2 linked regions of the Homo sapiens genome follow. The protein of the gene in region 1 interacts with the protein of each later gene in a biochemical or structural test. Each region holds a gene or a part of one and is shown in the gene's direction. Other genes may lie near its edges. The genes, in order: SLF2 and SMC5.

Region 1 (3,928 bases):
AGTCTGACCTATTTAAGTACTATAAATAATATAAACCTCAGTTGTATTTTTATAAATGAACTCCTATAGGAAGTGATACGTTATATTTTCTGTTTTTTTAATGAACAGTTTAGCAAAGCATTGTTACCATTGTCAGAACTTTATTAAACCAAATAGTGAAATCCAGCCTTTATTTTATAAATCTTTCTCCATTTAATCTGAGTTATGAAGGTTTTAATATTTGCTTATATGATGCCATATTATGCTTTTATTTTCAGGAAGCAGTCAATTATAGATTTCTTCAAACCAGCTTCAAAACAAGGTATGTACACTGTTGATGCATTTTTTGTGGGCTATTTTGGGGGTGAGGAGAGAGACAGATTCAACTTTAAAACCTACTCTAAACTGTTTTAGTAAACGTAGTGTTCAAAATTGAAAATAAAATGAAGATGCAGTATTTTGTTTTACAAGGATAAACTGAAGTTCTAAATATGAAAGTCTTTTTGCTGTTATGTTTTCTTACATTTAAAATATTATTCTAGTAAAAAATTTAATGTTCATAATACATACTATTTTGATTCTCTAATACAGTAATTTATAGAGCCATAGGGAGGTTATATGATGTACCAAAAGAGAGCTTTATGAAACTAAGGCTTTTAACAAATAAATCATCTCTTAATTTCTCCTATACCCCCCAATAAAGTGTGTATCATTATCCAAGTTGTTGGTTTGAAAATTTTTGTGGTAACATTAGTATAGTTTAATTTATATTTTAAACATTAATAATTTAGATAAATATTAAATATTTTACTAACATGCAATTTGTATGTGTTTTAATTGGCTATTTAGACAGACACATGTTGGATTCACCACAAAAATCAAACATCAAATATGGAGGAAGTAGATTGTCTATCACTGGGACAGAGCAGTTTGAAAGGAAACTATCCTCACCAAAAGAATCTAAACCCAAAAGGGTGCCACCAGAAAAGAGCCCTATTATAGAAGCTTTCATGAAAGGTGTTAAAGAGCACCATGAAGATCATGGTATACATGAGTCACGTCGGCCTTGTCTGTCACTAGCCTCCAAATATTTAGCCAAAGGAACAAATATCTATGTTCCTTCTTCATATCACTTGCCAAAGGAGATGAAGTCACTAAAGAAAAAACATCGATCCCCAGAGAGAAGGAAGTCACTATTCATTCATGAAAATAATGAGAAGAATGATAGAGATCGAGGCAAAACCAATGCAGACTCCAAAAAGCAGACCACAGTGGCAGAAGCTGACATCTTCAATAACAGCTCCAGAAGCCTTAGCAGCAGGAGCAGCCTGTCCAGGCACCACCCGGAAGAAAGCCCACTGGGAGCTAAATTCCAGTTGTCACTAGCTTCTTACTGCAGAGAACGAGAACTAAAGAGGTTGAGAAAGGAGCAAATGGAGCAGAGAATCAACTCCGAGAATTCTTTCTCAGAAGCAAGCAGTCTTTCCTTAAAATCTAGTATAGAAAGAAAATATAAACCAAGGCAGGAACAAAGGAAACAGAATGACATCATACCTGGAAAAAATAATCTGTCAAATGTGGTATGTGTAAGAATTATTGAATTAGCATTGCTACTGCTATGTCATATTTAGAATACTAAATTTAAAAATATTTAAGAGTTGTTACATCACATTGACGTCTTTCCTGAAGGAAATACTTATGCACAGTTTGTGTAGAAGCTGGTTTCATTACATTTCCTCCAGTTGCCCTTCATCGAACTCAGTAAAGCAGTGTTTCTTATCCTTAGTTTTTTCAGACTGGGAACAAAGATCTTTTTTAGTCAGAAAAGTAAGCATTCTTTTTTTTTAAGGCAAGTATAGTCTTACTTATTTATGTGTAGACAGTCTTGCTCTGTTGCTCATGCTGGAGTGCTATGGCGTGATCATGTCTCATTGCAGTCTCAAACTCCTGGGCTCAAATGATGCTCTCACCTCAGCTTCCCAAGTAGTCGAGACTCCAGGTACCTGCCACCATATTTGACTAATTTTTGTATTTTTTTGTAGAGACAGGTCTCCCTATACTGCCCAGGCTGGCCTTGAACCCCTGGCCTCAAGCGATCCTCCTGCTTCCTGTACTTTGGGAGGCCTAGGTGGAAGGATTGCTTGAGCTCAGGAGTTTGAGACCAGCCAGAGCCACATATCGAGACCTTGGCTCTACTACAAATAAATAAATAAATAAATAACCAGTCATGGTGGCATGTGCCTGTTCTCCTAGCTACTTAGGAGGCTAAGGTGGGAGGCTCGCTTGAGCCCAGGAGATCAAGGTTGCAGTGAGTTTGATCACACCATTGCACTCCAGCCTGGGTGACAGAGCGAGACCTTGTCTCAAAAATACAGTGTTCTAATATAATATTCTTGAATTATTGATATAAACGTAAATCAGCATTTTGAAAACTGACTTCATTTTTATGATATTTTTACATGTTTATGATACAAATGCCCTTAATTTTTATGACAAAAACCTTAAGATCTTTAAATATTTTATTATAGACATTAGGATTTACCTCCAAATATGGGTGCTTGCCTTATTCAATCTAGAAATCTGTGTTTAAATGTTAGGAAGAATGCCTTCACATTCTTTACTGTCCCCAACACTTAATTAATTTTATCTCATTGTGCTCATAGGAAAATGGACATCTCTCAAGAAAAAGATCCTCTTCTGATTCATGGGAACCTACTTCAGGTAGAATCAAAATTAAATTTATGGATTTCTAAATAAATTTCCATTTTAATGGCACTGCTTTTTAAAATAAATTTGTTTAAATATGCAGTTCCCTTCTTGGGGATGAATTAAGTGTCTCATATTAATTAAGAGTTTGGTAAGATCATATTAAAAAAGACTAGTCCCTGAATCTAGTACTTATAATTTGGGTTTGTTTTTGAGACAGGGTCTTACTCTGTCACCCAGGCTGGGATGCAGTGGCATGATCACGACTCAACTGCAAGCCTTGACCTCCTGGCCTCGAATGATTCTCCCACCTCAGCTTCCTGAGTAGCTGGGACTACAGATGTGGGCAACTATGCCTGGTTAATTTCTTGTATTTTTGTAGAGACGAGGTTTCGCCACGTTGCCCAGGCTGGTCTCAAACTCCTGAGCTCATGAGCCACCACACCTGACCTAGTGCATATAATTTGTAATCTGTCTTGAATCTCTGCCCTCTTCAGGAGTTCCTAACAGTATGTTTCTCATACTGGTATTCAGTGTTTCCTTCTGAATCCTTGGCTACATCAGGAAACATAATCTTTTTTTTTTTTTTTTTTTTTTTTTTTTTGAGACAGAGTCTCGCTCTGTCGCCCAGGCTGGAGTGCAGTGGTGTAATTTGGCTCATTGCAAGCTCCGCCTCCCGGGTTCACACCATTCTCCTGCCTCAGCCTCCCAAATATCTGGGACTACAGGCGCCCACCACCATGCCCGACTAATTTTTTGTATTTTTAGTGGAGACGGGGTTTCACCACGTTAGCCAGGATGGTCTCGATCTCCTGACCTCGTGATCTGCCCACCTCGGCCTCCCAAAGTGCTGGGATTACAGGCATGAGCCACTGCACCGGGCCCCCAGGAAACATAATCTTATTATCTTGGAATTGTAGACTGAGTTGTTGGTATTATGTTGAAGATGCTTTGTATAGGGTTGAGACTGTTACCATGATAAAAAGCAGTGTTCTCTAATATTTCAAATCCAAGGATCCCTTTTTAATATTAAATTTCAAGGATATCTACATGACATTAGTTTGTACTTTTAGCATTTATTGATTGAAAAAAATATAAAATAACAAATCTGTTAATTCAGTACATTTTATCTTTTTTTAAAACTAGAAAATAGAAGATTAAAAAGGCAAACACTGCAGAAGTTTGCAACAAGAAATGAAAGGTCTCCACAACTAACAACAGTTAATAGTCTAGTGTATCCGAT
Region 2 (3,928 bases), on another chromosome or scaffold:
GCTCTGCATTGCAGCAGCCTACTCTATAAATATACAGAAATAGATCAAATAGTGGTATGGTTGTGGTATTTATAATATATTTTAGTTTATGAAATCCATGTATAAATTCTTCAGAGAAAAGTTCTAAAAAACTTTAAAAATAAGAAAAGGCTTTGAAATCTATGAAAAATGTTTCATTTGATTATTCTTCCCAAATATACAGGAACTAAATATAAGATTATGTATCTTTGAACAGTATAACTGAGAGGAGGGGAGAGTAAATGACTTACCCAAGATAACAGTTCAATGTGCTGAGCACTCTTCTCTCCTGCTATCTCTTCTTTAGATGTAACAAAGCTCCAAAACTACTTGGGAGAGTTGTATAGTAGCGTAGAAGTATAGCTGACTTTGCTAGTTGTATGGGCCGCCTTTTTTGAAATTTTGTTGGATAGGTTAAAAAAAAAATTGCTAGATGCAGTGGCTCACATCTGTAATCCCAGCACTTTGGAAGACCCAGGCGGGAGAATCTCAGAGGCAGGAATTCAAGACCAGCGCCCCCATAGGAAGCATGGAAAAACTCCATCTCTACAAAAATTTTTTTTAATTAACCAGGCGTGGTGGCACATGCCTGTAGTCCCATCTACTCAGGAGGCTGAAGTGGAAGGATCACTTGAGCCTGGGGGGTTGAGGCTGGAGTAAGCTGAGTTCGTGCCACTGCATTCCAGCCTGGGTGACAGAGTGAGACCCTGTCTAAAAAAAAAAAATGTATATCTCGTATATTTTGATCTTCCAAAATTCACTTGGTCTGTATTTCTAATTTAGTACTTTAAAACATATAATTTATATTAGATGTGCACTAATAGTTGTTTTACGTTATAGGTAATACAAGAAACCCGATTAAAACAGATTTATACAGCAGAAGAAAAGTATGTGGTGAAAACTTCTTTTTATTCAAACAAAGTTATTTCTAGTAACACATCTCTAAAAGTAGCGCAGTTTCTCACTGTCACTGTGGACCTAGAGCAGAGAAGACACTTAGAAGAACAGCTAAAGGTTGGTTAATTTGATCTGAATGTTAGAAAAGAATATTAACTGGATTTCTAATAGTTTCACTGGAACAGTTTTTTAAATATGTTAACAATTTTTAAATATTTTATAGGAAATTCATAGAAAATTGCAAGCAGTGGATTCAGGGTTGATTGCCTTACGTGAAACAAGCAAACATCTGGAGCACAAAGACAATGAACTTAGACAAAAGAAGAAGGAGCTTCTTGAGAGAAAAACCAAGAAAAGACAACTGGAACAAAAAATCAGTTCCAAACTAGGAAGGTATCTTTTAGCCTATTCAGGGGGGAGAGCACAAATTACTGTATGGGAGAATATTAATTATACACTGTAATAACAACAGCATTTCCACAAGCACGCTTTGTAGTAATTTCTCTTTAATCTTTAATCTTACTGCATAAAACACAATTTTATTCCATAGGGCAAAAGGAGATGAATCTTGAGTGTTGCAAGTTCTTCTGTTCTTCCAGTCTCTGGACTCCTTTATATGCTTAAAAATTAATGAGGACCTTGAAGAGGTTTTGTTTACATGGATTGTATTTATTGATATTTACCATATTAGAAATTAAAACTGAGAATGTTTAAAATATTCATTAATTTATTTTTTTTTAGGTGGAGATGGGGCAGTAATTCATTTTAAAAATAAACCCATTATGTGTTAACATAAAAATGTATTAAAAATAGCTGTTTTCCAGACAAAATACATTTAGTGAGAAGAGTGGCGTTTTACATTTTTGCAGATTTCTTTAGTTGAAGTCAGTAGGTTTTTCCCTACTTAATTCTGTATATTGAGTTTGTAGTGAGATGTTTGAGTTGAAGTATATGAAGGAAATCTGGCTTCCCATAAATATGCAGTTGGAAAAGGAGGAGTATTTTAGACTTTTCAGGTAATTGTGGATATTATTCTTTAATACTACATCAAAATTTGCCAAAGTGTAGTTTATTAAAGTTTAATTGCAGTGTGGAATCTGAAACCATATCAGTGAACTTGTGTACTCTGTTACATTAAAATCCATTGCACTTTAGATGGCGCTTTTACTTGTAAATGATTTAGTTATAGCATGCATTGGTCATTGGGAGAATACTGGTTCATCAAGTCACATAGATATTTCAAACGTTGACATATTTTATTATGTAATATTTTTAAAAGATCACATTGATCACTGATTCCATCAGAAAAGCTGTTAAGAATTGGGAAGCTGTCAAGCTTGCCAGTGGATACAGATTTTCTAAAATTCAAATTTTCATTTGAAAGTTTGAACTTTATCATTGGCAACAAATATTGTCAGTTATTTTCCTTGAAATGACAAGCTCACTTTATTCCTGTTTGGAAAAAGAAAAATGACCAAATAGCCAAGTCCAGATAATTATAGTTTGTCATTTTTTTAAATAAAAATGGTATTCCATGAAAAAAATGTCTAGTATAACTCCAAACTTAGTCACACAAGTGCTTTTCCTTGAAACAACATTTATACTTTTGAATATACTACAAATATTTAATAAGCACAGCCTGCCCTCCATATTCGTGGGTTGCACATCCATGGATTCAACCAACCACAGATCAAAAATATTCAAGAGGCCAGGTGCAGTGTCTCATACTTGTAACCCCAACACTTTGTGAGGCCAAGGCGGAAGGATCACTTGAGTCCAGGAGTTTGAGACCAGCCTGGGCAACATGGCAAGACCTCATCTCTTTAGGCAGGGCAGGGAGGAGGGAAGAAAGAAAAATATTCAGGGGGACAAAAATGGATGGTTATGTCTGTATGGAACACATACAGACTTTTTTCTTGTCATTATTCCTTAAGCAATACAATATAACAACTATTTACATAGCATTTATGTTGTATTAGGTATTATAACTAATCTAGAGATAATATAAAATATATGGGAGGATGTTCATAGGCCATATGCAAATACTACATCATTTTATATAAGGGACTTAAGCATCTGTGGATTTTGGAATCCTTAGGGAGTCCTGCAACCAATGTCTGATGGATACTGGGGGACAACTATATTATGTACTTCCTATGTCATGACATTGAATATTAAAAATATATATACTTAAGATTTTGAGGTTTAATAAAATTTATGAATTTTACTGCTTCATCAAGGATATTCTTAAGGGAATTTGGCATTTTTAAAAATTTCAATTGCATGGCAGTGAAGAATCTAAGAACTAGTATACTTTGGTGCACTAGTTTTGGTACACTACCTTGATTTATTCTAAAGCACTAGCATTTTTACTTTCCATTGCTTTTACACCGTCAGTGCAAATGACAGCATGGTGAGAAAGGCAAATGATGTCCTGTTACCACCATGAAAATAGTTTTTAACTCACAGACTCCTGAAATAGTTTCAGGTATCCCCAGGAGTCTGTAGACCGGACTTTGAGAACCACTGCCCTACATGATTATCCAAAACAATATGTCCCTTGAGTTCTGAATGGTAGGAGAGGAGAGGGGAAGGCAGAAAAATTGTCAAACTAGGCTGTTTTTTCTCTAGTTCTGAAAGAGAGTAATAGGGAAGGAGGAGGTTATATTGAGTTTCACAGAATAGATTGGGCACCTGAGGGTTTATCTCACTCATTTAGTTGCAGTCTTCCTTGTGACAATTAGAATTATGTCTGCTTGGCCTTAATGGGTCATATATTCCACAGAATTCTGTACAAAATGTAAATATAATATTGTCAAATGTCTTTTTTTTTTTTTTTTGAGACGGGGTCTTGCTCTGTTACCCAGGCTGGAGTGCAGTGGCATGCTCACAGCTCACTACAGCTTTGAACTCTTGGGCTCAAGCAATCCTCACGCCTCAGCCTCCTGAGTGGCTGGGACCACAGGTGTGCACCACTATGCCCAGCTTTTTTGTAGAGATGGGGTCTTGCTAT

What was found.
Region 2: the proteins of SLF2 (region 1) and SMC5 form a complex in vitro, tested with the Homo sapiens proteins (one study listed by BioGRID).

What each region holds. Positions count from the first base shown.
Region 1 is NC_000010.11:100,915,742-100,919,669, forward strand, and holds part of SLF2 (SMC5-SMC6 complex localization factor protein 2), read left to right. Parts: intron 1-257; coding exon 258-301; intron 302-828; coding exon 829-1,559; intron 1,560-2,642; coding exon 2,643-2,700; intron 2,701-3,928. UniProt on the Homo sapiens protein: Plays a role in the DNA damage response (DDR) pathway by regulating postreplication repair of UV-damaged DNA and genomic stability maintenance.
Region 2 is NC_000009.12:70,317,656-70,321,583, forward strand, and holds part of SMC5 (structural maintenance of chromosomes protein 5), read left to right. Parts: intron 1-858; coding exon 859-1,032; intron 1,033-1,138; coding exon 1,139-1,308; intron 1,309-3,928. UniProt on the Homo sapiens protein: Core component of the SMC5-SMC6 complex, a complex involved in repair of DNA double-strand breaks by homologous recombination.